7 linked regions of the Homo sapiens genome follow. The protein of the gene in region 5 purifies or fractionates together with the protein of the main gene of each other region. This does not show direct contact. Each region holds a gene or a part of one and is shown on either strand. Other genes may lie near its edges.

What was found.
Region 1: the proteins of INPP5K (region 5) and NPTN purify together in Homo sapiens (co-immunoprecipitation; one large-scale study listed by IntAct). This does not show direct contact.
Region 2: the proteins of INPP5K (region 5) and GAN purify together in Homo sapiens (affinity purification with mass spectrometry; one large-scale study listed by BioGRID and IntAct). This does not show direct contact.
Region 3: the proteins of INPP5K (region 5) and P4HA1 purify together in Homo sapiens (affinity purification with mass spectrometry; one large-scale study listed by BioGRID and IntAct). This does not show direct contact.
Region 4: the proteins of INPP5K (region 5) and CMBL purify together in Homo sapiens (co-immunoprecipitation; one large-scale study listed by IntAct). This does not show direct contact.
Region 6: the proteins of INPP5K (region 5) and FSAF1 purify together in Homo sapiens (affinity purification with mass spectrometry; one large-scale study listed by BioGRID and IntAct). This does not show direct contact.
Region 7: the proteins of INPP5K (region 5) and PDXDC1 purify together in Homo sapiens (co-immunoprecipitation; one large-scale study listed by IntAct). This does not show direct contact.

What each region holds. Positions count from the first base shown.
Region 1 is NC_000015.10:73,623,390-73,626,889, forward strand, and holds part of NPTN (neuroplastin isoform b precursor), read right to left. Parts: intron 1-3,500. UniProt on the Homo sapiens protein: Probable homophilic and heterophilic cell adhesion molecule involved in long term potentiation at hippocampal excitatory synapses through activation of p38MAPK. May also regulate neurite outgrowth by activating the FGFR1 signaling pathway.
Region 2 is NC_000016.10:81,352,962-81,356,461, forward strand, and holds part of GAN (gigaxonin), read left to right. Parts: intron 1-1,443; coding exon 1,444-1,794; intron 1,795-3,500. UniProt on the Homo sapiens protein: Probable cytoskeletal component that directly or indirectly plays an important role in neurofilament architecture.
Region 3 is NC_000010.11:73,044,867-73,048,366, forward strand, and holds part of P4HA1 (prolyl 4-hydroxylase subunit alpha-1 isoform 2 precursor), read right to left. Parts: intron 2,236-3,500; coding exon 2,059-2,235; intron 186-2,058; coding exon 115-185; intron 1-114. UniProt on the Homo sapiens protein: Catalyzes the post-translational formation of 4-hydroxyproline in -Xaa-Pro-Gly- sequences in collagens and other proteins.
Region 4 is NC_000005.10:10,277,095-10,280,498, forward strand, and holds the end of CMBL (carboxymethylenebutenolidase homolog), read right to left. Parts: coding exon 3,359-3,404; 3' UTR 501-3,358; downstream 1-500. UniProt on the Homo sapiens protein: Cysteine hydrolase. Can convert the prodrug olmesartan medoxomil into its pharmacologically active metabolite olmerstatan, an angiotensin receptor blocker, in liver and intestine. May also activate beta-lactam antibiotics faropenem medoxomil and lenampicillin.
Region 5 is NC_000017.11:1,496,845-1,499,612, forward strand, and holds part of INPP5K (inositol polyphosphate 5-phosphatase K), read right to left. Parts: intron 1,279-2,768; coding exon 1,092-1,278; intron 1-1,091. UniProt on the Homo sapiens protein: Inositol 5-phosphatase which acts on inositol 1,4,5-trisphosphate, inositol 1,3,4,5-tetrakisphosphate, phosphatidylinositol 4,5-bisphosphate and phosphatidylinositol 3,4,5-trisphosphate.
Region 6 is NC_000001.11:231,231,176-231,234,675, reverse strand, and holds part of FSAF1 (40S small subunit processome assembly factor 1), read left to right. Parts: intron 1-3,500.
Region 7 is NC_000016.10:15,016,526-15,020,025, reverse strand, and holds part of PDXDC1 (pyridoxal-dependent decarboxylase domain-containing protein 1), read right to left. Parts: intron 2,907-3,500; coding exon 2,858-2,906; intron 2,706-2,857; coding exon 2,604-2,705; intron 1,187-2,603; coding exon 1,061-1,186; intron 1-1,060.

The sequences.
Region 1 (3,500 bases), on a different chromosome or scaffold from region 5:
AAAAACTTCTGGCTGGCAGGGGGGCTGTGGCTCATGCCTGTAATCCCAGCACTTTGGGAGGCACAGGCAGGAGGATCACTTTAGTCCAGGAGTTTGAGACCAGCCTGGGCAACATAGGGAGACCTCATCTCCACAAAAAATTCAAAAATTAGCCAGGCATGGAGGTATGCGCCTGTGGTCCCAGCTACTTGGAAAGCTGAGGCAGGAGGATCACCTGAGCCTGGAAGGTTGATGCTGCAGTGAGTAATGATCACGCCACTGCATTCCAGCCTAGGCAACAGAGTGAGACCCTGTTTCAAAACAAAACAAACAACAGAAAAACACACTAACTTTTGAAAAGTCCATTTCATTTCATATTCATTTCCATATTTTTCTCTCATTGAGCTTCTAAACAAGCACAGTACTATGTAAGAAAGAGATCATTTCTGTTTTTGAGTACCCTCTCAACCAGCTCTTTGTCCTACTTATAATGGTTCTGACGATGAGTGCAAATAACTCTATTCTTCCGCTAGTTTCATTAAAATCATCTTAATACTAAACCTATGCTTTCTTCCCTGTGCTCTAGGCCATTGCTCTTTGATACAGCCCATCCATCTTTGGAGACTGCCTAATTCCCTTACTTCATTTACACTGCTACCTTGAAAGTATTAATAGATAATCACATCCCCCTAGTGCTCCCTGTTCCTAAGTTTAGCTCCTTCAGGCTTTTCTCCTAAATCTTAAGCTACCATCAACATAGATTCTATGTCTCTTCCAAAATGTGGTTAGAAAGTATTCTTATTTGGAGTTCAATCCTAGTAGAAAACAGTAATGCTGTTAGGTTAGCACCATACTTTTGATACGTGATCACTATGTTATTTGTGTAAGGGTAATTCAATGACAGTTCACTGCAAGCTATTTGAAACCTCTTTATACTTGCTTTTTTCCAGGTAGCAGTTTCCTGGTTTGCATTAAGGCCATTTATTTCATCTCCCTTGATGCACGATTTGAGATTCAGCATTAATGAATATAATTTCAATGCTGGAGCTCCTTGTGCTATTTTTTTCCAGTTGTTCGGCAATGATTCCCAAACCTGCTAAACTCGTATAATCAAAAAAATCCCAAGTTAAATTTAACACATTCCTTCAATCTATGAATTTAGAAGTTTTTCACAGATAGTTGCCAACAAAGGAGGACATCTTGTTGCCTTTTTTTCCTCCAGGAAGCAGTGTCTAAAAACTAGGAAATAATCCCACTACTCTAGGATCTTAAACATGAACGGCAGATGATTCTTTAGTGATGGTTCTGCTTACCCTCTCTCTCTCTTCCCTTGGCCAGTATTCAAGTCAATCTGTACTCAACAGAAATGTGCCTCAGACTACAGCAACCAAGTAAAGCATTTGGCTTAGAATAAACATTAGTACTCCCAGCCCTGCAAACTCAAAGGCTCAGGAATAAGGAACACAAGGTCTAATTTAAAAGGAAGGTCAACTGAATATACTGGAAAAGTTATGTCTTGATTATATTCAAATTACTGTGGCTTCCCCTTTTTCTAAAGTTCTAAAAGGAAAAAAAATCGCTATATATAATGGCTAATGTATAAATCCAAAATGTTTTATTTTCTTTACTCATAATGACTAATAACAGTATATGCTGATATTACTGATAAATGTCTAGTGAAAATCCTTGTGTTAACAAAAATCATAATTATTCCAGACTAACATGGCATGTAAAAAATAAACAAAAGCCCCAAACTACTCCATACCTGAAAATGCTGTTTTTCAAACTGAGTTTCACGGCCCATGAATTGTGAATTCAATTTAGAAGGTCACTATGGTTCTCTTAACTACCTCACACAGATTAATAATAGGTAATGTTTCACAAGATATTACATATTTGTGTAATTTTGTTATAAATTTCTATTAGTCAAAAACTACTTCTCTATCTGGGTCACAGACAAAAAAGTTTGAAAGCCTTTTTCTAAAGAGCTTTTTTTTTTTGAGACGGAGTCTGGCCCTGTCACCCAGGCTGGAGTGCAGTGGCATGTTCTCGGCTCCCGGGTTCACGCCATTCTCCTGCCTCAGCCCCGAGTAGCTGGGACTACAGGTGCCGGCGACCACCCCTGGCTGATTTTTTGTATTTTTGGTAGAGATGGGGTTTCACCGTGTTAGCCAGGATGGTCTCGATCTCCTGACCTCGTGATCCGCCCACCGCAGCCTCCCAAAGTGCTGGGATTACAGGAGTGAGCCACCGCGTCCGGCCAAGAGCTTTATTTTTCAAGTAATTTCAACATGATTACATGTGAACCAAATATTATCTTTTACTCATATAAACTAACCCCTACTGACTACATTTCAGGTCCTAGAAAATTCTAGTTTGCAATGTAATTTTTAGGTTATTTTTAAATTAATAAGTAGCAAGGGTGTAGCTGAAACTAGATGATGAATACACAGGGGTTTATTCATTACTTAATCTATTTTTGTACATGTTTGAAATTCTAAAGATCTAAAAGAAAAAAAGGAAAAGAAATGGACCTAACAGATAACAAAGTAGTACCATGAATGTTTACAACTTGAGACCTTTAAACACAATGTTTCTAAGGAATAACAATCAAGGAACTTGCTAGGATTTAATTCAGTTAACACTTGGGGTTGCCTTCTTCGACTATAATGGACGGATTTCCAGGTCTTAAAAAATGCATAAGGGACTGCAGAAACTAACTCATATATAGAAAACAAACTTTCTCGAAAGATAACATAAAAATACAAATAGTTAAGTGTGTTTCATTGTCTCTTTATTAGTCAACCACTTTCAGCCAACAGAAAGATCATAAAATACCTACCTACCTGGCAGGAATATTCACTTCTTTATTCACACTGGCAATTTTCCCAGCAAGTTTAATATAAGATCTCTGCATAACAGACACGGTTCTGCCTCCCTTGAAACAAGAACTGCAAGGGTTGTCTGAAGTAGATTTAGAGGCATTTAGATTTCAAAACAGTGCATGCCTCAAAGTTAATTTTCATTATATTCAAAAGTAAGTTTCTAAAAACTTTTAAACAGAAAGTGTTATCATCTCTGAGCCTTTAACCTATTGGAGACAGTATCTAAGCTATAAGGGCAAGATATTTAGTAATTTTTAGAACTGAAAGGAAATTTAGACATCATCTAGTCCAATGGTTTCCAAATCCTACCATCAGGAAGAAAAGAATCTCAAAGGCATAACAATTTATATATGCAAAACAAACTCTTACTTGTGTGTTTTCCTGTATCTTCCTGCACATGAAATACTATGCCTTATTAGTATTCTATCAGGAAAGGATGTGACATTTCGTTATGCATTTTATATTTAATCACATTTAGTATGTGAGTATCCATTTAGATATGATTAAAACTATTGGTACGATTTGGGACTTAATGCTTTCTAATTATAGAAACTTACATAATATATCCAACCCTAATACTTTCAGAGTGATTTCATACCATCTCATTTATATTTCACTGTCTAGTAAATTTGAAGT
Region 2 (3,500 bases), on a different chromosome or scaffold from region 5:
ATTGAGTTCTGTGATTTGTTCCCAATTTAAATTTAAAACGATAGTTGGGGCCGGGCGCGGTGGCTCACGCCTGTAATCCCAGCACTTTGGGAGGCCGAGGCGGGTGGATCACGAGGTCAGGAGATCGAGACCATCCTGGCTAACACGGTGAAACCCCGTCTCTACTAAAAATACAAAAAATTAGCCGGGCGAGGTGGCGGGCGCCTGTAGTCCCGGCTACTCGGGAGGCTGAGGCAGGAGAATGGCGTGAACCCCAGGGGGCGGAGCCTGCAGTGAGCCGAGATTGCGCCACTGCACTCCAGCGTGGGCGACAGAGCGAGACTCCGTCTCAAAAAAAAAAAAAAACGATAGTTGGAATGTAAGTTATAACAAACTCCTGAATTGGCAGTTTTGTTTTATTGAAATGCAGTTGAGTGTTTTTTTCACGTGCCTATATTTGAAGAGTCTACAGCTGCCTGCTGTCTTGTGGCTAAATATAATGTCATATAAATGGAACATTTTCCCCTACTTGTGGCTTACTCACCATACTACTTTCCACATTTTTGTTGCTCAGTTTCTAAGATGATTGGCAATTATACTTTTTTAAAAATCTGTGGTACAAAAAGTGTAAAATGTAAAAATGTTTCTTGCTATACTCCTCATGAAGTCTCCCTTGCATTTGCGAATGTGGGTGAAGTGCCCATGCTTTGGGGTCGTCCACTTAGGACTGTGGCAATATTTTAGAGAACTGTTTCTTTCCTGATGCTTTGGAGCACTGTGAAGTCAGTGGAGGAAGAAGCATTAGTCAGAAAATTGAAGAAAATTAAGGAAAAGTAGATGTTCATAATGAGAAAAAAAAAACACCCTTGTATTAGGGATTTATTCCAAAAAGTAGTTTTGAGACCTAAGTGTATCTGTCTGTGTACCAAATTGCACTGCGTACAGTGTTTTGGGATGCGGAATGAGGCTTCTGAAACACTGGAAACCCCTCTCCCTTCAAGGGGTTAGCATTCAGGTTGGCATGCCATTTAGCGGAAGAGTGAACTTCATAGGTGGGGAGGCAAGATTTTCATCAGTTCTGATGCTGGTACTTAATCATGTTGACTTTACCATAGAATGTAGAACTTTCCATTTCCCAAGCATTTGAGTCATTAAGGTTTTTCTCTGAATTACAGAAGTGAACAACATGGACAGTTCACCCTAAAAGGGTTATTGGTGGTTGACATTGGTACAGCAAGGGCAGAGCTGGGAAAAGTTAACCAAGCACACATTTGCTTATGTTGGTGCCTTCCAACTCTTGGAAAAAAAAAAAAAAATGCTGGGTTAAACCATATGAAATTGCCAATATTCGATTATCTTTGATCTAAAATAAATGGAAATTTCATGTGGCCCCAATTAATAGGTTAGTGGTTTGGGTTTTAAATGTACACATTCAAATATAAGATAATTATGCTACTTTTTTAGATCAGGCTAAATGAAGATACAATCCAAGATGTTGTTCAGGCAGCTGACCTGCTGCTACTGACGGACCTTAAAACCCTGTGCTGTGAGTTTTTGGAAGGCTGCATTGCTGCTGAGAACTGTATTGGTATCCGTGACTTTGCACTACATTACTGCCTCCATCACGTTCATTACCTTGCCACAGAATACCTGGAGACTCATTTCCGAGACGTCAGCAGCACGGAAGAATTCTTAGAGCTGAGTCCTCAAAAGCTTAAAGAAGTGATTTCTCTTGAGAAGTTAAACGTTGGCAATGAAAGATATGTCTTTGAAGCAGTAATTCGATGGATAGCACATGATACAGAAATAAGAAAGGTACCTGTCATTTATAACATGGTCAAATTTGCCTTTTTATTTCTTTTTAATTCAAATTTTAGTTGTTTTATTTTTCTTCTTCATCATGAAAGACTTACGATGCAGCAATCTAAAAGATACCTGTAAAACATGTTCCCCTATATCATGAAAGCAGTTGGTTTTTCAGACCAGTCTGCAAAAGCCCATGCCACACAATATATCAGTGAAAATATTAGCCCTTGTAAGGAGCGTAATATCCTTTGTATGTTGTTTTTAATGGGAAAATGCATTTCAAGCTTAAGCTGGAGATTATAGAAACGCAGTATCCCCACCCTTGCTCTCAGCATCCTGACCTACTATATCACTAGGCTAACCTCTGCCAGGCCTCAGGTGCCTGCAGCAGGCAGGGGGGTGGCACGTGGATCGATGGCAGGGGTGGAGGGGCATGGGCCTGAGGAGCTTCAGGTGTGATTGACACCACGCAGGAGAAAGCAGGCAGGCTCTGGAGTTTGTGTGGCAGTGCAGTTTCAAGAGGGAAGGTTCTGGGAGTGAAGGTCTTAAAGAATATCAGCCTCTAGATCCAAATTGTGAATACCTTGGAGGAAGGAGCAAAATCACAGGACTTGAGGGTTTTGAGGGGGCAGAGAGTCTCAGTCTGTCTCCCAGGCTGAAGGGCAGTAGCCAGAGTGGCACGATCATAGCTCACTGCAGTCCCAACCTTCCTGGCTGAAGTGATCTTCCCACCTCAGCCTCCGAGTAGCTAGGACCACAGGCGTGTGCCACCATGCCTAGCTAATTGTTTGATTTTTGTAGAGACAGGGTCTCGCTGTGCTGCCCAGGCTGGTCTCAAACTCCTGTGCTCAAGCAATCCTCCCACTCTAGCTTCCCAAAGTGCTGGGATTACAAGTGTGAACCACCATGCCCAGCCAGGACTTCATTTTTAAGTCTGATTATTATAAATAAGACACTAGCTCCAATTACTGTTTTCAAAATAAGAAATATATTAGGTGTTAGAGAGTGGATCTCACAATGTATAATTTTACTGTTAATTGTTCTTGTAAGTTAAAACTGGACTGTTAAATTTTGATGATTATCTTATAATTTTTTGAATTCTGTAAGCCCATAAGTATGCATGTTTAGAAACCATATTTGTAGTATTGGTTTTAATTGGGACAGGTAAGGACAGGTAGTGTTCTGCTTTCCATGTTAGTTGGGGAAATTGGTAAAGGAGATAGAAAAATGAGAAAAATTTCCTATGTGCTCCCACTCACCAAGACCACAGTGGGACATGCTGCTCCTTGCCAGCTTCCGTCCTGCCCTCTTCTTGCCTTAAAGCAAGGGAGATGCTTAAGGTTGGCTGGTTGCTGGGAAAACGAGGCAGTTCTTTGTCCTTTGGTCAGTTTAAACTTCATGCTGTAAAGACAGTTGATTTTTAAAACTCACAGTTTTATTTTACATTTATAAAATACTTTCGTCAGTTCAAATTTAGTGATTGAGCAGTAAAAGTGTAAATTCATATTAGTCGTCTTAGATATTTTTGAACAGTAATTACTGCAAAAATGATTATATAGTACTCAGGTTTTTTTTTAAACTTTGGCTTTTGTATATTTTTCTTGTATTATTAATGTTGATGTCTAAGTTTACCATATTGTATTGAGCTATTACTGTATATAATATTTGTATAAACATGATTTAACTCATGGCACATCCAAATGTGTGAAATAAAG
Region 3 (3,500 bases), on a different chromosome or scaffold from region 5:
GTGGTGACTTGAGCTGGTGACTGAAAATGACCCACTTTCCTTAAATGAATAATTCCTGTAAGATGTATAAAACACTCATTAGAGGGCAAAATATGCAGCATACACATCTCTTACCTTTTGCTAATTCTGTAATGTACCGTCTCCAAGTCTCCTGTTATTGGGTTTGAAATGGTGGCTCGCCTCAGCTGTGAAGCCAACCATCAAAATAGTTGCATTACAAAACAAAAAACTGAATCACATTTACCCAACCAGTCAGAATTCCAGGGTTTTTACAAAGGAGGCTAAAAAGAGAAAATAACTCCATACACTTCCAGTCACCTTGTGCTGAGCCTTGAAAGCCAGTTAGTTTTTTAGGTTTTTGGGGTTTTTTTTTTTTCTTCAATTTTTTGTTTTGCATAGATGGAGGACATACAAACAAAAGAGATTGGAAATTAAATTTCTTTCAATGGTGAAAGGACATGACAGTAAGAAAAAGAGACATATCTAAAATTTGAAGTCTAATTTACAGTTAAAATAGCCATCTGGGGGTGGGGAGAGAAGGGGAAAAAAAGAAGAATGCCTATTTGCAATTAATGATCCATTCCAAAACCTTTGACTTTAATTTTTTTTAGTGATGGAACTGTTTGCACAGGTTAATGTTTAAAATTCATTTTAAGGTCAATCTTTTGTCCCTTCAAGATAGCCACTCTCATTAACATATACAGTGAAATAATCTTGGACTGAGAACAAAGGCAGAGGAAAAGAGCTCATAAATGTTAAAAACAGCAAGAAAGAGGTGACCGCCTAGATAATAATTTCAATTTTTTTTAATGGAACGATGATTCTGAGGTTGTGAGAGCATGAAATTTTATTGCCATTAAATTTATTGATCAAAAACAATCCAAATTGAGGAATCTCCAGAATATAACTTGATCTCCAAGTTGAAATGAATTAATTACCTTGGATGGCACCAATAATATATATTAATGTTAGACCAGTCTTTTGCATTTATAATGTAATCTTTGGCCAAAAAAAAAAAAAACCACCAATTTGGAGAAGCAGAAAAACTCTAAAAGAAATTCTAACTTCATTTTGTAGTATAGATATCCAGATAATTCAAACCTTTGATATAATAAGGGTCAACAAACTATGGCCACAGACCAAATTCAGCCTGCTACCTGCCACTGGAAATAAAATTTTACTGTAATATAGCCACACTCTTTCATTTACATATTTTCTTTGGCTGCTTTTGCACTATAATGGCAGAACTAAATAGTCATGACAGAGATCATATGGCCTCCAAAGCCTAAAAAATATCTAATATTGACCTTTATGGAAAAAATCTGCCAACTCCTGTGTAAGACAGCAAAGCATGCCTAGAATTTATTCAACAATCTCTTTATGAAAGTGATGGCAGCTTGTATTTTACTATCAAGAAGACCAAATATGTTTTAAGAACAAGCTGATGGGGGAAAAGGCAAGAGCATAAAGGGTAGTCTTTTCCACATTCTCACTAAAGAGTTTTTATGCTCAACACTAAGCTTATAGATTGGGTTTACGTTAGATTCTTTTTCTTTTTAAGATAAATTCTGTGGGTTAAAGTCAGAAAACTATCACCATTTCAAATTAACATAATACTTGTGCCCAATTATATCTTTTTATAATAGTAACAATGTGCCTAAAAGGGAATAAAAATACTTCCACGGTATTCTTTCAGTAAAAATACAGAAGTGAAAAAGCTGGGCTTTGAGTAGCCTCTGAGATTAAAAGACTCCAAAATACAGAGAAAAGTTTATCAGGAAGACAGTGAAACACAAATTTGTTAATGGTGAATAAAAATCTCACAATAATTTTCATAATTCAGTGCTTAAAACCCAGTTAAGGGTACATTACTTGTGTTGATAACAAATGGAAAAACTGGCATAAACACAGCATCATTAGTAACTCCATTATGCTGAGGCAAAATATCTTTAAAAAATCTGTGGCATTATTCGTATATCAATTATCCTATTTTTTTACAAAGAAAAATTGATACAAAGGTACAGTAAATTGAGGAGAAAGAAAGAAAACATTATTTACCCTTGGTTTTGCTAGGTCTTTGACGATTTCAATTTCTGCATCAGAAATAATATCATGGAAGCGAATAATACGAGGCTTGTCCCATTCATCCTCCTGTTTAGCTGGAGCCAGAATAAATTTAGGATTACGGTTTCCATCATGGTAGCGGCAAAAGAGTTTTTTCTGTCTCCGAGGGGTCTAAACATAAAGTTAAGAATATGATGAATATATTACAGTAATAATACTTTTAATATCTATTCCTATGCAGATAAGAGACAATAATCATGCTTGCATATACAGAGTATCTCTGGAAAAACATACAAAAGAAGCAGTACTCTGCAAATATTTTGCCTCAAACAGGATGTTCAGAATTTTAAATACAGTATTAATGATTATTTTCTGGGTGAGAGAGGCGAGGTCTTAAATAAGGAGAAAGGTAGTGTATCTCTTTTAACCCTTCACTCATCAAAATAAAGTTCAAATGTTTAAATATGAAAAAAAAGCCATGTTTATGAAAATATTAAATGAATGCCTGGCATTGCTCTAAATGGCACAAAGTAACTGGAAAGCACCCAGAGACAAAAAGTTTCTAGAAGAAAAAAAAAACTAGGTTTTCCTAAATACCTCACAGTTAAATGCTTGTGGCAAAAAAAAAAAAAAAAAAAAAGGAATTTTTTTAAGGGCAAAATAAAAAATGGATAGCTCTGAAAAAGAAAAAATAAGTTATTAAACAAAGATCCCAGATGCTTTTATTAGGCAGTATAAAAATAGAGCAGTCAACAAAACAAATTCCCTTCAATCATCTATGTATTATATTAATAAGTTATTTTGTTGCCTACTTCTCTTAATTAAACAAGTATGTCAGGCCTGGCATGGTGGCTCATGCCTATAACCCCAGCACTTTGGGATGCTGAGGTAGGAGGATCACTTGAGCCCAAGGAGACCAAGATCAGCCTAGGTCACACAGCGAAATCTCGTCTCTACAAAAAATTTAAAAAATTAGCCGGACATGAGGGCACTTGCCTGTAGTCCCACATACTTGAGGGGCTGAAATGGGAGGACTGCTTAAGCCCAGGAGGTAGAGGTTGCAGTGAGCCATGATCATGCCACTACACTCCAGCCTGGGTGACAGAGCAAGAAGCTGTCTCAAAAAAACAAAACAAAACAAAAACAAGTATGTCACATAAGCAGGAATATGAGTAGTCTGTTTCAATTATTATACTAATAGTATACTAAAACAAATAATGATTCATGTTTATTCTCCATGCACTTTACCTAGAGTCAAATCCAAGGCTTTAATTTTTAGTAAGTCTTTTATATAATGATGAGATGAATGTAGCTATTCTGAGAAAAAGAATTTTTTGTTTTTGTTTTTGTTTAGACAAAGTCTTGCTCTGTTACCCAGGCTGCACTGCAATGCCTTGATCTCGGCTCACTGCAGCCTCTGCCTCCTGGGTTCAAGC
Region 4 (3,404 bases), on a different chromosome or scaffold from region 5:
TTTGTTTTTTTTTTTTTTGAGATGGTCTTGCTCTGTGGCCCAGGCTGGAGTAAAATGGCACCATCTCAGCTCACTGCAACCTCCACCTCCGGGTTTAAGTGATTCTCCTGCCTCAGCTTCCCAAGTAGCTGGGATTACAGGTGCCCACCACCATGCCTAGCTAATTTTTGAATTTTTAGTGGAGATGGGGTTTCACCATGTTGGCCAGGCTGATCTTGAACTTCTGACCTCAAATGATCAGTCCACCTCAGACTCCCAAAGTGCTGGGATTACAGGCATGAGCCACTGTGCCTGGCCAAATCAAGTACTTCTGATGAAAAGTTAGCATCCAAATGGAGATATGTGTAAGCAGAAAATACACACCAGATGTCAAAGATAGAGGAACAAAAAAAAAAAAATACAAAATATCTCACTCATGATTCGTTACATTGATTACACACTGATGGAACATTTGTGATAAATTGGGCTAAAATGCATTATTAAAATTAATTTCACTTGTGTCTCTTTCCTTTTTTTAATGGGGCTATAAGAAAATTTAAAATTACATACATGGGGAAAAAAGCTAAAGTTGCCATTTTTTCCCTTTACCTTCATTTATCTGTTTGTCTAATAGTCACTGAAGAACATATCTTTTTAAAGAAGTACGTGTGTGACTTACATTATACTTCTATCTGCAGTGCTGGTTCAGAACACCATGACATTTGACCAAAGGACTCAGCAGAGGGAAGGCTGCCCAGGCCCCAAGCTCACCATGAAGGATACAGCCACACCCTTGGTTCATTCTCGCACGAATTTCAGACCTCCCACCTATGTTGAAGACTCTGGCTACTGGCCACATGCTCACCGACACCGTTCCACGGCAAAAGCCCAGCACATCTCAGGGGTTTCCTGGGAGGCCGGATGAATGTGTGAGGCCTCCTGGGAGCAGCCCTCAGCAGGCAAGGGCTTTGGCCTGTTGGGGTCCACAACTAAGTGTCCACAGTAGACCAGCCCTGCTCAGGCTTGGATTCTCTCAACATTAGGCAAAGGGTCTCCCCATACCCATTTGACAGATGCAAAAACTGAGGCTCAGGAAGCTCAAGTTTGGGAATTCTTTGAATTTTATGTTTCCTGAGCATCTATTTGAATGTAAGTTGGACTTTCTCATACTAGAAGCAGGGATTAGTAACACAGTTTCCAGTTATACAACTTCTCACTGTTCCCCAAGGTGGTCGATCCAGACATCTGCCTTACAAAACCGCCTCCTGGGACCACCTTCCCATGGACAGCTGGATACCACCTGCTTGACTTGTCCCACTGACCCCCACACCCACATGGACCATGCCGATATCCTACCCACACCGACCCCTCTCAGTCACAGCGTGAGTCCCCGGGGCTCATGCCTGCTTGCTCTAAACCCCCCAGTTAGAACCTCCAGGGGAAACCTGCATAGATGACACCCTGGGCCCCAGTGAAGGCTTTGGCTCATAGCTCCCTCTCTCTCTCGTTCTCCACCTTCTGGTTGAGCCCATGTGTCCTGAATGGCTCCCCCTTTTTGCTGGCCCTGTGAAGCGTGCTGCCCTCTGTTCTCTGGATCTGTAAGCAATAAACTGCTTCTGTCATTTCTTGGGTTCTGATGAGTTGCCTCCTCTACCCCATCCTAACTTCTTTCCCGGTCAGGGCTCTCCGGGAGAGTGGCTGTCTCAGTAGGAATAAACTGGACACAGGTCAGATGAGAGCCACAAGGTCATGTGCCAGGATAAACAAGCTTCCTGCGAGAGGGACACCTGGCCACAGGTTGGACACTCAGGAATCAGGCCGTCTGTGAGGTCAAAGAAGGATCCCATGAAAGGCACATGGGAAACACCCACGACCACATCCCCAGGATCCCCGTCAGGGCAGGGCTAGAGTTTACAGCCACTCTCTCCTGAGAAGGACGTCAAGACAAAATTAGGAAAAAAACTACAACATCAAGTCACTTGCCCAAAGTCACATGTACGCACCCCGTAGGTGCAGGTGCAGAGTTTCTCACCGGCTCTCCCCTTTACGCCACCACCAGAAACACAGGAGATATTTCTGAGGTAGCCTCAGGCCCTGGGACCCAAAAATGCCAGTGCTTGGAAATCCACTGCTTAGGAGACAACAGCTGGGTGACAACTCTAGCCCACCGTTCTCTGCTATCTTTTTAAAAAAGCTGCAAATTCAAAAATTCAAAAAATTAGTTTATTAGCTTAATATAATTAGGTCAATGGAATCCTGTTTTGATCTCAATACTTCCCATATTGCAATATATAAATGTGACAAATTCAGCTGTTTTGTGGCATAGATAAGTGTCTAAGCTGGGCAGTTAGTCTACCCGTTTATAGTTCATGTTCTTCATGGCTTTGCAGCATTTGTCACTTTCTATGATGTGTTCAAAGACCAGAAAAGGCCACACTTGACCTGTCAGCTGGTCCTTGAACAGCTGTAGGTTTTTTTTTTTTTTTGAGACAGAGTCTCCCTCTGTTGTCCAGGCTGGAGTGCAGTAGCGCAACCTCGACTCACTGCAACCTCTGCCTCCAGGTTCAAGTGATTCTCCTCCTCAGACTCCTGAGTAGCTGGGATTACAGGCACATGCCACCATGCCCGGCTGATTTTTATATTTTTAGTAGAGATGGGGTTTCACCATGTTGGCCAGGCTGGTCTTGAACTCCTGACCTCAAGTGATCCACCCACCTCGGCCTCCCAAAGTGCTGGGATTACAGGCGTGAGCCACCGCACCCGGCCTGTAGGTTTTAACTAATAATTAGGGTATTACTCTATCATTCTCTATCATTCAAATTCTCCAGGTACTGACCTGGTTTTTATTTTATTTATTTATTTATTTACTTATTTATTTTTGAGACAGGGTCTCACTCTGCTGCCCAGGCTAGAGTACAGTAGTGGCACAATCTTGGCTCACTGCAGTCTCCACCTCCTGGGTTCTATTGATTCTTGTGCCTCAGCCTCCCAAGTAGCTGGGACTACAGGCGTGCACCACCACACCAGGCTAATTTTTGTATTTTTTGTAGAGATGGGGTCTCACCATGTTGGCCAGGCTGGTCTCAAACTCCTGACCTCAGGTGATCCACCCACTTTGGCCTCCCAAAGTGCTGGAATTACAGGCATGAGGCACTACACCTGGTCAGACCTTGTTTTTAAATTATGATTCGATGTACATGTCAAAAATTAAATTATTTCATGCATTACGTCCTACTGAATTTGTGTTTCAAATGAAATAATCAATTTTAGGATTCCTACACTTATTTTATAAAAGTGAAAATTAAATCAAATGATCTAACTATTTCCAAGCAAATTTTGGGATGAAAGCTATTCTAGGAAGGCTTGCCCTTGATTCTTGCTACATGTACTTGTTCAGCCACTCAATTAAATTCCTTCTGGCCTCG
Region 5 (2,768 bases):
ATTCCCTCCTCTGAGGCCAAGTGTTCCTCACTGTGCCCTTCCAACATAGTGGGGAAGGTGGGGCACCCAGAGGGGGTGGGCATGGAACTCCACTGGGCTGCTCCAACGGACCTTGGCTGGCCATCAGGAAAGAGGGCCGAACACCAGTCGGCGGGTGGCTGGCCCTGTCGGAATCCCATGGGGCCCAGCGCTGGGGGGTAGGAATGGCGGAGAGCAGAGGCACGGCTGAGAGGCTTAAGGAGGCGGCCAGGCAGCTGCTCTCAGGCCTCCCGCCTTATCTGACCCAAAGCCCCACATGGGGGGATGCTCTGGTGAGAACAGCTGTGAACGTGCAAGAACACAACGCAGATACCAGCGGGGGCCAGGCACGGTGGCTCACACCCATAATCCCAACAGTTTGGGAGGATCACTTGAGCCCAGGAGTTCGAGACTAGCCTGGGCAACATAGTGAAACCCTGTGTCTACAAAAAATACATAACAGCCAGGCGTGGTGGCGTGCACCTGTAGTCCCGCTACTAGGGAGGCTGAGGTGGAAGGATCAATCACTTGAGCCCAGGAGGTGGAGGCTTCAGTGAGCTATGATACCGCCACTGCACTCCAGCCTGGGCGGCAGAACGAGACCCTAACACACACACACACACGCCAGTAAACCTGTATGAAAACGTGAAGGCTGAGGGGCAGCAGCCTGAAGGAGGCCAACACCACCTTGGTCATTCAGATAGCAAGATACAAGGACGCAGGGATGGAGGGAGCGCCCGTTGCAACTTGATCCAGATAGATTTAGGACAAATAAAAGAAGTCCTACTTCTCACATTGGGTAATAAGCCTAATGGAACTCATTAGCCCCAAGGGAGAATACCCAAAGGAAATGGAAACCTTTTCACAAAGGGTTTGAACACGGTTTTGACAGACAGAGCCATCAACGGCTCCTAAGAGGAGCTGGGATATCCGACCTGGCAGGAAAGGCAATCATGGCCTCCACAGGTCTCCCCTGGGGGACTGGCTGACATTCGAATCCAGGGATGGAGGGCTTGGGGATGTGGCCAGCATAGCTATTCCTCTGGCAAGTATCAGGCAGCCCAGAAGTTCACCTCCAAGTCGAACGTGCCGGAGACAGGCTTGTGGTCGCTGATGCCGTACGTCATGTGGCTGCTGTAGCCCCTCAGAGACAAGGAGAAGTGTGACGCCGGCGGTATGGGAGTGTCGGGGCCAGCACAGGGCTGCCGCTTCAGCCTCCACAGGATGCGATCGGTCCATGCAGGCTTGCGTTTTTTCTCACTGCAGGGGCAGGGGGCATAAAGAGGAAGAATGGGGAAAGAAGAAAGGGTTGGCTAAGAGCAGAAATGAGCCCACATGAGCTTGCTGGAGCCCCTAACTCCAGCAACTACTGGCAGCCACAGACCCCCGGGGCCAGAGCCGGAGGGAGCAAGGCAGCAGGCAGGAAGGTGCCTAACAGAATCCAAAGTATGCCAGCACTTGTCAGACTTAGCCAGGACCCTCTGTATGTCTAGCTCATGTTTTTATGGATCAAATTGTGACTCAGAAACATTCCATTTCAAAGCTTTGCTTCTTTCTTGAGCAAAAGCAGCAGTGGATCAAAGCAGCTGAGGTTTGAGATTCTGAGGCTGGACACACCTGAGCTTGTATTTGGCTGCCCTGCATACTAGAAGTATGCCTCAGGAAAGGGAAGGGAAGCATTTAGGAAATGCTTACCAGAGGATGCCTGTGATCAGTACTGTTACCACACCTTTTTTTAAATTTAATTTTATTTTTTTAAAGAGACAGGGTCTTGCTCTGTCATGCAGGCTGGAGTGCAGTGGTGACATCACAGCTTACTGTAGCCTCAAACTACTGGGCTCAGGCGATCCCACCTCAGCCTCCTGAGTGGCTGGGACGGTAAGTGCGTGGCACTATGCCTGGCTAATTTTTAAACATTTTTTTGTAAAGACAGTATGTTTCCCAGCCTAGTTTTGAACTGCTGGCCTCAAAGGATCTTCCCATCTCAGCTTCCCAAAGTGTTGGGATTAGAAGGCATGGACCACTGTGCCTGGGTGTATCATGCTCTCTTTACAGGTGGAGAAACTGAGACTTAGCTTAGAGGGGAAGCACCTTTCCCAAAGTCACAAGGTACTAAGTGGTGGAGCCAGGATTCAGGGCCAGCCAGCATGACCACAGAGCATGTGCTCTTAACCACCAAACTAAACTAACCTCTCTCAGGCCTCAACTTCCTCGCCTGCCAGTGGAGGGAATAACAGTAGTTACCATGAAGGGTTGCTAGGATGAGTCAATGAGATAAAGTACATAAAATGTTTAGCACAGTGCTTGGTGCAAAACGAGCTCGCCATGCACACTGGCCTTTATGATTTCCTCTCAAGAGTCGACTGAGAGGCCGCGCGCGGTGCTCACGCCTGTAATCCAAGCACTTTGGGAGGCCAGGGTGGGTGGATCATGAGGTCAGGAGATCGAGACCATCCTGACTCTCTACTAAAAGTACAAACATTAGCCAGGCATGGTGGCAGGTGCCTGTAATCCCAGCTACTCGGGAGGCTGAGGCAAGATAATTGCTTGAAGCTGGCAGGCGGAGGTTGCAGTGAGCTGAGATCATACCACGGCACTCTAGCCTGGGCGACAGAGCAAGACTCTATCTCCAAAAAAAAAGGAGTCGACTGAGAGACCTCCCACCTGTTCTTCACTTGCCAGTTTCCCTGAGGGGTTTGGAAAAGGTAATACGCTCCGGAGACAAAATGCATTCCTCCTCTAGGTAACTG
Region 6 (3,500 bases), on a different chromosome or scaffold from region 5:
ATGAGAAGCCACCAAAGAATTTCATGCAAGGGCATGAGGTAATCTGATTTAAATTTTAAAACGATCACTGTAGCTCCTATGTGGTGAATCGATTATAAGGGAGCAATAGCAAGAGGCATGAGGAGACTGATGTAGGGGTTTGTTGCAGTGGTCCAGGTTCAAAATAGCGTGGCCTGGACTAGTGATCTCAAAAAAATGAATGGGCAAACCTACTCTTTCATAAGTGCAAGGCTGCCTGTAAGGAAGAAAATTCTTATGCTTTTAAGCAATGAAAGCGTCAGATGTAGCTTAACACACCTGTGTGTTGCTCAGCCCTTAGAGCTGTGTCACTGCCATTTCTCCACAGCTAGCATTGGGCCATCTTAACGTGAATCATTCACTGCCCCTGTTTCAGGAACCTTAGCCTCTTTTGTGGCCTCAGATAAGAAAGAGATAAGAAACACATAATAGAATAGTGTTCTGTAGATCAGAAGGGACCTTTGCATCCTGAGACTGAGGTACATGAAGGCCGCCCCTGAGCATATAGCGAATTGCTAATATTTATTGGGGGTGTACTGAGAGTGTTTGTTTATGTTCATTAACTCATTTATGGTCTCAATCCTCACAATTCCTGGCACCTGTCTTCATTTCACAGAGAAGCTTGAGACTTACAAGAGGTTAAGTTACTTGCCTGTAGTTAAACATTAACCTCACAGCCCCATATCTGCAATTCCAAACACCCAGAGCTCTGGAAACCACAATTTGATTGATCCCTTTTCTTTTAAGATTGGTGCAGATTTATTTGGCAGAAAAACCTGATGAAGCTTTTAAAAATCATTTTTGTTCGGCTGGGCACGGTGACTCATGCCTTTAATCCCGGCACTGTGGGAGGCTGAGGCAGGCGGATCACAAGGTCAGGAGTTCAAGACCAGCCTGGCCAATATGGTGAAATCCTGTCTTTACTAAAAATACAAAAATTAGCCGGGTGTGGTGGCATGCGCCTGTAGTTCCAGCTACTCAGGAGGCTGAGGCAGGAGAATCGCTTGAACCCGGTAGGCGGAGTTTGCAGTGAGTCGAGATTGTGCCACTACACTCCAGCCTGGGCAACAGAGCAAGACTCCGTCTCAAAAAAAAAAATTTTTTGTTCATCTCATTTGGTGTGAATATTCATAGATATTGCCACAGAAATATTAATGTGTTTAATTATGGATTACTGCCTTGGACCCTACTGGAAGTGGTCTGTAATATTCAGTATATTCAGTTTTGCCTTTTTAAAATGTAAAGACTTCTGAATTTTAAAGCTGGAACCTGACCCTAAGGATGCCAGATAAAGGATTATGGAGCTGAAGTAAGTGCCAAAGGTTGGGTTCAGACCCCAGGCTTTCTGGCTTCAACACTGTGTACATAACTTTTATACTAGAGAGAGCATAGGTGAGGTTAGGCTCTGCTCTTTGTCCTTTGAGTGACACAAGTACACTGACTCTGAGCCATCGCCAGACAGAGACATTTCTTGCAAGTTATAGTCAAATAGCTTTGATCGTTCCCCAAATTCTTGCAGCTCTCATACTGCCCCGCAATGTGGATGTAGCCCACTGCATGGTACTCCACCCGGAAATCCTCCATGCTCCAGTGCCTCTTCTTACTTTTACGCCAGACTTCCTGTTCCTGAGTAGATCAGTGTCAGATGGGTGTTAGGAAGAAAGTAATCTAGCTGAAGTAATTTAGGCTCATCAAGGTGTGAACAAACTTCTTAATATTCATACAGCCGTCTGCATTTTTAAAAGAGCATTTGTTTACCGGGCTACTCTCTCTCTAATTGGAGACAGGTTGGTTGGGCACTTCAACTAATAGATTAAAAAAGAAAGAAAATCTAAGCCGCGTAAGAGAAAATACCTAAATCACCCCATAGACGGGTTTGCTGAATCTGGTGGACTGCCTGCCTTCATCTCTCACTTTTCTTCCAAACTGTTCTTTCTTTTTCTAGCTTTTCTTCCTTCTTCCCTGCCCAGCATATAAGTTCTCAGAATCTCCATACATATCCCTCTCCCTTGTGTGGGATAGTAAGGCTAGATTAGTTGCGATAGGTTAGGCTGTGATTTGATAACAAATAGTCCCTACATCCCAGTGGTTTAAAAGACAAAAATTAATTTTTCTCATGTTACATGGCCATCGGGATTTGCAGAGGCAGGTCTCCTGTGCCACACCATCCTCACCTAGGGACCCGGGATGACGGGGTGCCACCATCTGGAGGGTGGTTAGTTGCTTTAATGAAGGAAAGGGGAGTTAATGAAGGGCTCTTAAGGGGTCCACGTGGAAGTAGGCACACACCCCCTCTGCTCGTGTTTCTTTGGCCAGGGAAAGCCACCTAGGCATTCCTAGCATCAAGTAGACGGGGAAGCGTGAGTCGCCTGTGTGCCTGGAAGTAGTGGAGGACCCAGTATTGCCTATGGGCAGTAATGCCTCCTACTGCAGAGAATATGGGGGGAAAGAAAACCGAGGAGACCACTGATGGTTTCTAAGTCAGGTCATGTATTATGAATAATGTACTGAAGTGATTCTCAAGCTATGAATAAAAATAAAAATTAGACAGTGGTGGGTCATGCTAATAGGGACTCAGCAGCTATGAAATAATGAGGCAAGAATTTTTTTTTCCCAAAAGTTTGTGTTTGATACATGCACAGATCTAGACCTCAGACCCTTTCTCAAAAAGCCATCAATAGCTACAAAACTAAGATGTTTCTGGTGAACTGTTTAAAGAGGGATGAGGACACCGAGGTATCTGTGTCTGTGCCAGAGCTACCACCAAGGGACTCTCTCCTCCCCTTGGTCTAGTCGGCCCCTCAGCCCTGGTGTCCCCACAGCCAAGGTGCAGGGGATTAGGTGTTCTCCGTGGCTGCTGATGGGGACAGCAGGAACTAGGAGAGGCCCGACATTGCTCCTTTCTTTTGTAGGCCGGTCTCTTTCCAGGGCCCAGGGGTTTCAGCCTCATAGTAGCTATCATACAGTTGGCCAAGAATTTTATTACTGTGCTGAAATCCTCTTTAAATTGCTCCATTCTCATGCTAATCTCTAGTAACAGATCGGCCAAAAACATCTATAACATCTCCAGTATTGCTAGAAATCTGACGTGCCTCGCGCCACTGCACTCCAGCCTGGCGACAGAGTGAGACCCCGTCTCAAAAAAAGAAAAAGAAATGTTCAACTTAGAGACTTGATTTAGCCATTACTTCAGTGGAGCGGGTAGGAGGGAAGAGAGGAATTACTTAAATGTTTAGAAAAGGCGGTAAATATCTTAGGGGATCTTGGAGATCTGGGAACGGTATACAGGGTTTTGTTTGTTTTTATAGGGGTTAGATATGGTCATAGTAAATAGATTAGATGTGCATGGCAGTGGAAAAGATATCGTAACTTCAAAGTAAATGTGGAATTTTTTCCAGTCATAGAATAGGAATAAGACTCTTTCTGGTGTGGATAAAATGGAAGTGGCGCACACAGAGTCCTCCGTGCTATGCCTGTGGTCT
Region 7 (3,500 bases), on a different chromosome or scaffold from region 5:
ATTCTCCGGCCTCAGCCTCCTGAGCAGCTGGGACTACAGGCGCCCGCCACCACGCCCAGCTAATTTTTTGTATTTTTAGTAGAGACGGGGTTTCACCGTGTTAGCCAGGATGGTCTTGATCTCATGACCTTGTGATCCACCCGCTTCAGCCTCCCAAAGTGCTGGAATTACAGGCGTGAGCCACCATGCCCAGCCTGTTTTTTTGCTTTCTAAATGCTATGATCTGAATATTTATGTCCCCACAAAATTCCTATGTGGAAACCTAATCGCAAATGAGTTGAGGCCTTTGGGAGGTCATTAGGGCATGAGGATGGAACCCTCACAAACAGGACTAGTGACCTTCTGAAAGAGGCTCAAGGGACTGTGCTCACCCCTTCTGCCATGTGAGGCCACATGCAAGGCACTATCTATGAGGAACGGGCCCGACATGGAATCTCCTGGCACCTTGATCTGAGACTTCTCACGTCCAGAACTGTAAGCAATAAATGTCTGTTGTTTATAAATTACCCACTCTAAGGTATTTTGTTATAGAAGCCTGAATGCTCTAAAACACTGAAATATAGCATAATTATATATTTTTCACAATTAGAACACACCTAAAATGGAGAGAGAATTAGAATTGTCCCCAAGAGCCCTGCAATTTGGAAACCCAAGCCAGCTGGTTTATAAAATATCCATGCCCTCCATAACCACCTTGTAACCTTCCTATTCCCTCACCGTAGTCAGTCAATCAAGGGGAACACTCGCTCCCCACCCCTCCACCTTTTGCACCCTTCTCCACTCCTTGGAAGTCATCTGTGACTTCTTTTCTGATCCCATGCTGACAGTGGTGTTCCTTTTCATCTGATTTCATCTGCACACAAATGCTGGGACAGACAACCCAGCACTTTCTCCCAGAACTTTGAACAAGAAATATTTACATGCAGGGCGATTAGTCTCTGGCTCACGAGACAGTCAATCCAGACAACACCACTCTGGATGGAAGGTACAGAAATGAGATGTTTTTCTGTCTCTGCTGTGGCCAAGGAGTCTTTCATTTAAATGTCAGGCTTCTACTCACCAGTTGACAGGCATGCTTGATCCTCTCCACAAACCCATCAAGTCCCAAGTATTGTAAAGATAACCACAGAGGCAGGGCACGGAGTTTGTCTGTGGGCTTATTTGATGTAAGACCAGCAACTAAAGTCTAAAAAAGCCAAAAGAGGTTTATTAATCAAAGCCATTGCAATCTCATAATAGAACTAACCAGCTACCATTTGCTACCCACTTAGTGTGGGCTAGATGCCATACTAGTCACTAGGCTTGCATTATCCATGTGATCTTCCAACAACTCTGTGAGCTAAGTATTCTAGGTAACTTCACTCAGAGACCTCGGTTTGTCCAAGGGTTCACAGCTCAGGAGTGGCAAAGCCAGGAAAAGCCAGTGGAAAACCCAGATGGGTCACATCCCAGAACCTAGGAGACTCCCCACTTCGAAGGTAGCTCTGAGCATCCTCAAACACCTGGCCATTATTAGCTGAGCAAGACAGCAGTGTTTTAGCAGAAATCACTTAAACCTTATTTTGCACGCTGACCTATATTATCAAGAACCACATTATTATTATTATTTTTTGTGACAGGTTTCGTTTTCATTCTGTCGCCCAGGCTGCAGTGCAGTGGTGTGATCATAGCTCACTGCAGCCTTGATCTCCAGGGCTCAATCAGCCCTCCCACATTAGCCTCATGAGTAGCTGGGACTACAGGCTCACACCACCATGCCCAGCTAATTCTTTGTTGTTGTTTTTTCTTATAGAGATGAGGTTTCACCATGTTGCCCAGGCTGGTCTCAAACTCCTAGGCTCAAGCGATCTGCCTGCCTCAACCTTCCAAAGTGCTGGGATTACAGGCATGAGCCACCATGCCTGGCCCACAACTACGATTAAAAAAAAAAAAAAATGTGGCCAGGTGTGATGGCTCATGCCTGTAATCCCAGCACTTTGGGAGGCCGAGGCAGGCAGATCACCTGAGATCGCGAGTTCAACATGACCAACTTGGTGAAACACTGCCTCTACTAAAAATACAAAATAAGCCGGGCGTGGTGGCGCATGCCTGTAATCCCAGCTACTTGGGAGGCTGAGGCAAGAGAATCACTTGAACCCAGGAGGTGGAGGTTGCAGTGAGCCAAGATCATCTCACCATTGCACTCCAGCCTGGGTGACAGAGCGAGACTCCATATCAAAAAAAAAAAAAAAAAGTTAAAACCTATTGGGCAATGTGGATCAGGAGGCTTAAAACTCCCCCACTCAGTCATTCCACATCTGGGAACCTATTCTAAGGAAATAATTAGAAACACAGAAAGACGTTCACTGCTTCATTATTTCAGTAACAAAACTCTGAAAACATCCTATAAGTTCATAAATGGAGAATAATTAAATTGTGACAGAATATTATACAATCATAAAATGTCATTAAAAAAAGTCTCACAAGTTTCTCTTTAAAAAAATGAAATAGAAGTGAAATTATGGGTATTTTTCACTTTTTCCTGTATTTTTCTGGATTTTGCCCCCAAAGCCAATAATGTGTATTAGCCACACCCACTCCCTCCCCAGTGAGTGGAAACTTACCAAGGCAGGGTCATCGTGTTTATACAGTGTCACCGCAGGAACAGCTGGCAAACCCAGCCACGGGCCAGGAGTCATCGTCATGCTATCACATTTGGCTGCAGCCTACCAAAACAAGAACAACTCTTTGTTAGATTATCAGAATACACAAACCTAACACCCTCCTCCATTCATAAAAACTGTGAAGAGCCATGAGGGACTGAGTGACTTTAAATTCATTCTTAAAAACACCAATATTCAGTAAATCAACAACATACCAGCACTGATGAGGAGACATAACCCAGAGCCAATGTTGCCAGATTCACACTGGAAGAAAAAACACCAGTCCAAGAACTAATTATTTAATGTTGCTTACTCACCATGTACTTAAAAAAATAAAGGCTGTGCTGTTGCAAGTTGACACTTAAGTATATTTTTAATGTTATTAGCTTTCATTAACAGCAACAGAAGGTGTGCTTTATACATATGAAGGAAAATCCTGAAAATGCACTTTAATAAAAATGTGTCTCAGGAACTATCCCCGCTCATTTAATATAATGGGAGTATTCTTCTCTTTCATGGATCTTATTTTCCAGTTATCATTCTTTACTTAGGGATCAAAAAGAAACCTCCCTGTATGATGTGGTGGATATGGGCTACTCTGGCTGCCCACGTCCGTTCCCCCTGCTTCTCTTAATGGCCCTACAATAGCCTTCCAGGGCGCCATCTCCATTTCTTCCAGCAGAACATGAGCTTTGTGGGGAGGAGACACCACTATCTGCTCCAGAGGAGAGCAAAGAACCTCAACTATCAGAGGATTACTTCTCCCTGGCCACAGTGGCTGGTTCAATACGAGACTTCTGTTAGGACTTCCAGCTGACCACGAAGCTGGAAAGAAGGCTGGAGTTTCTGCAGCTACTT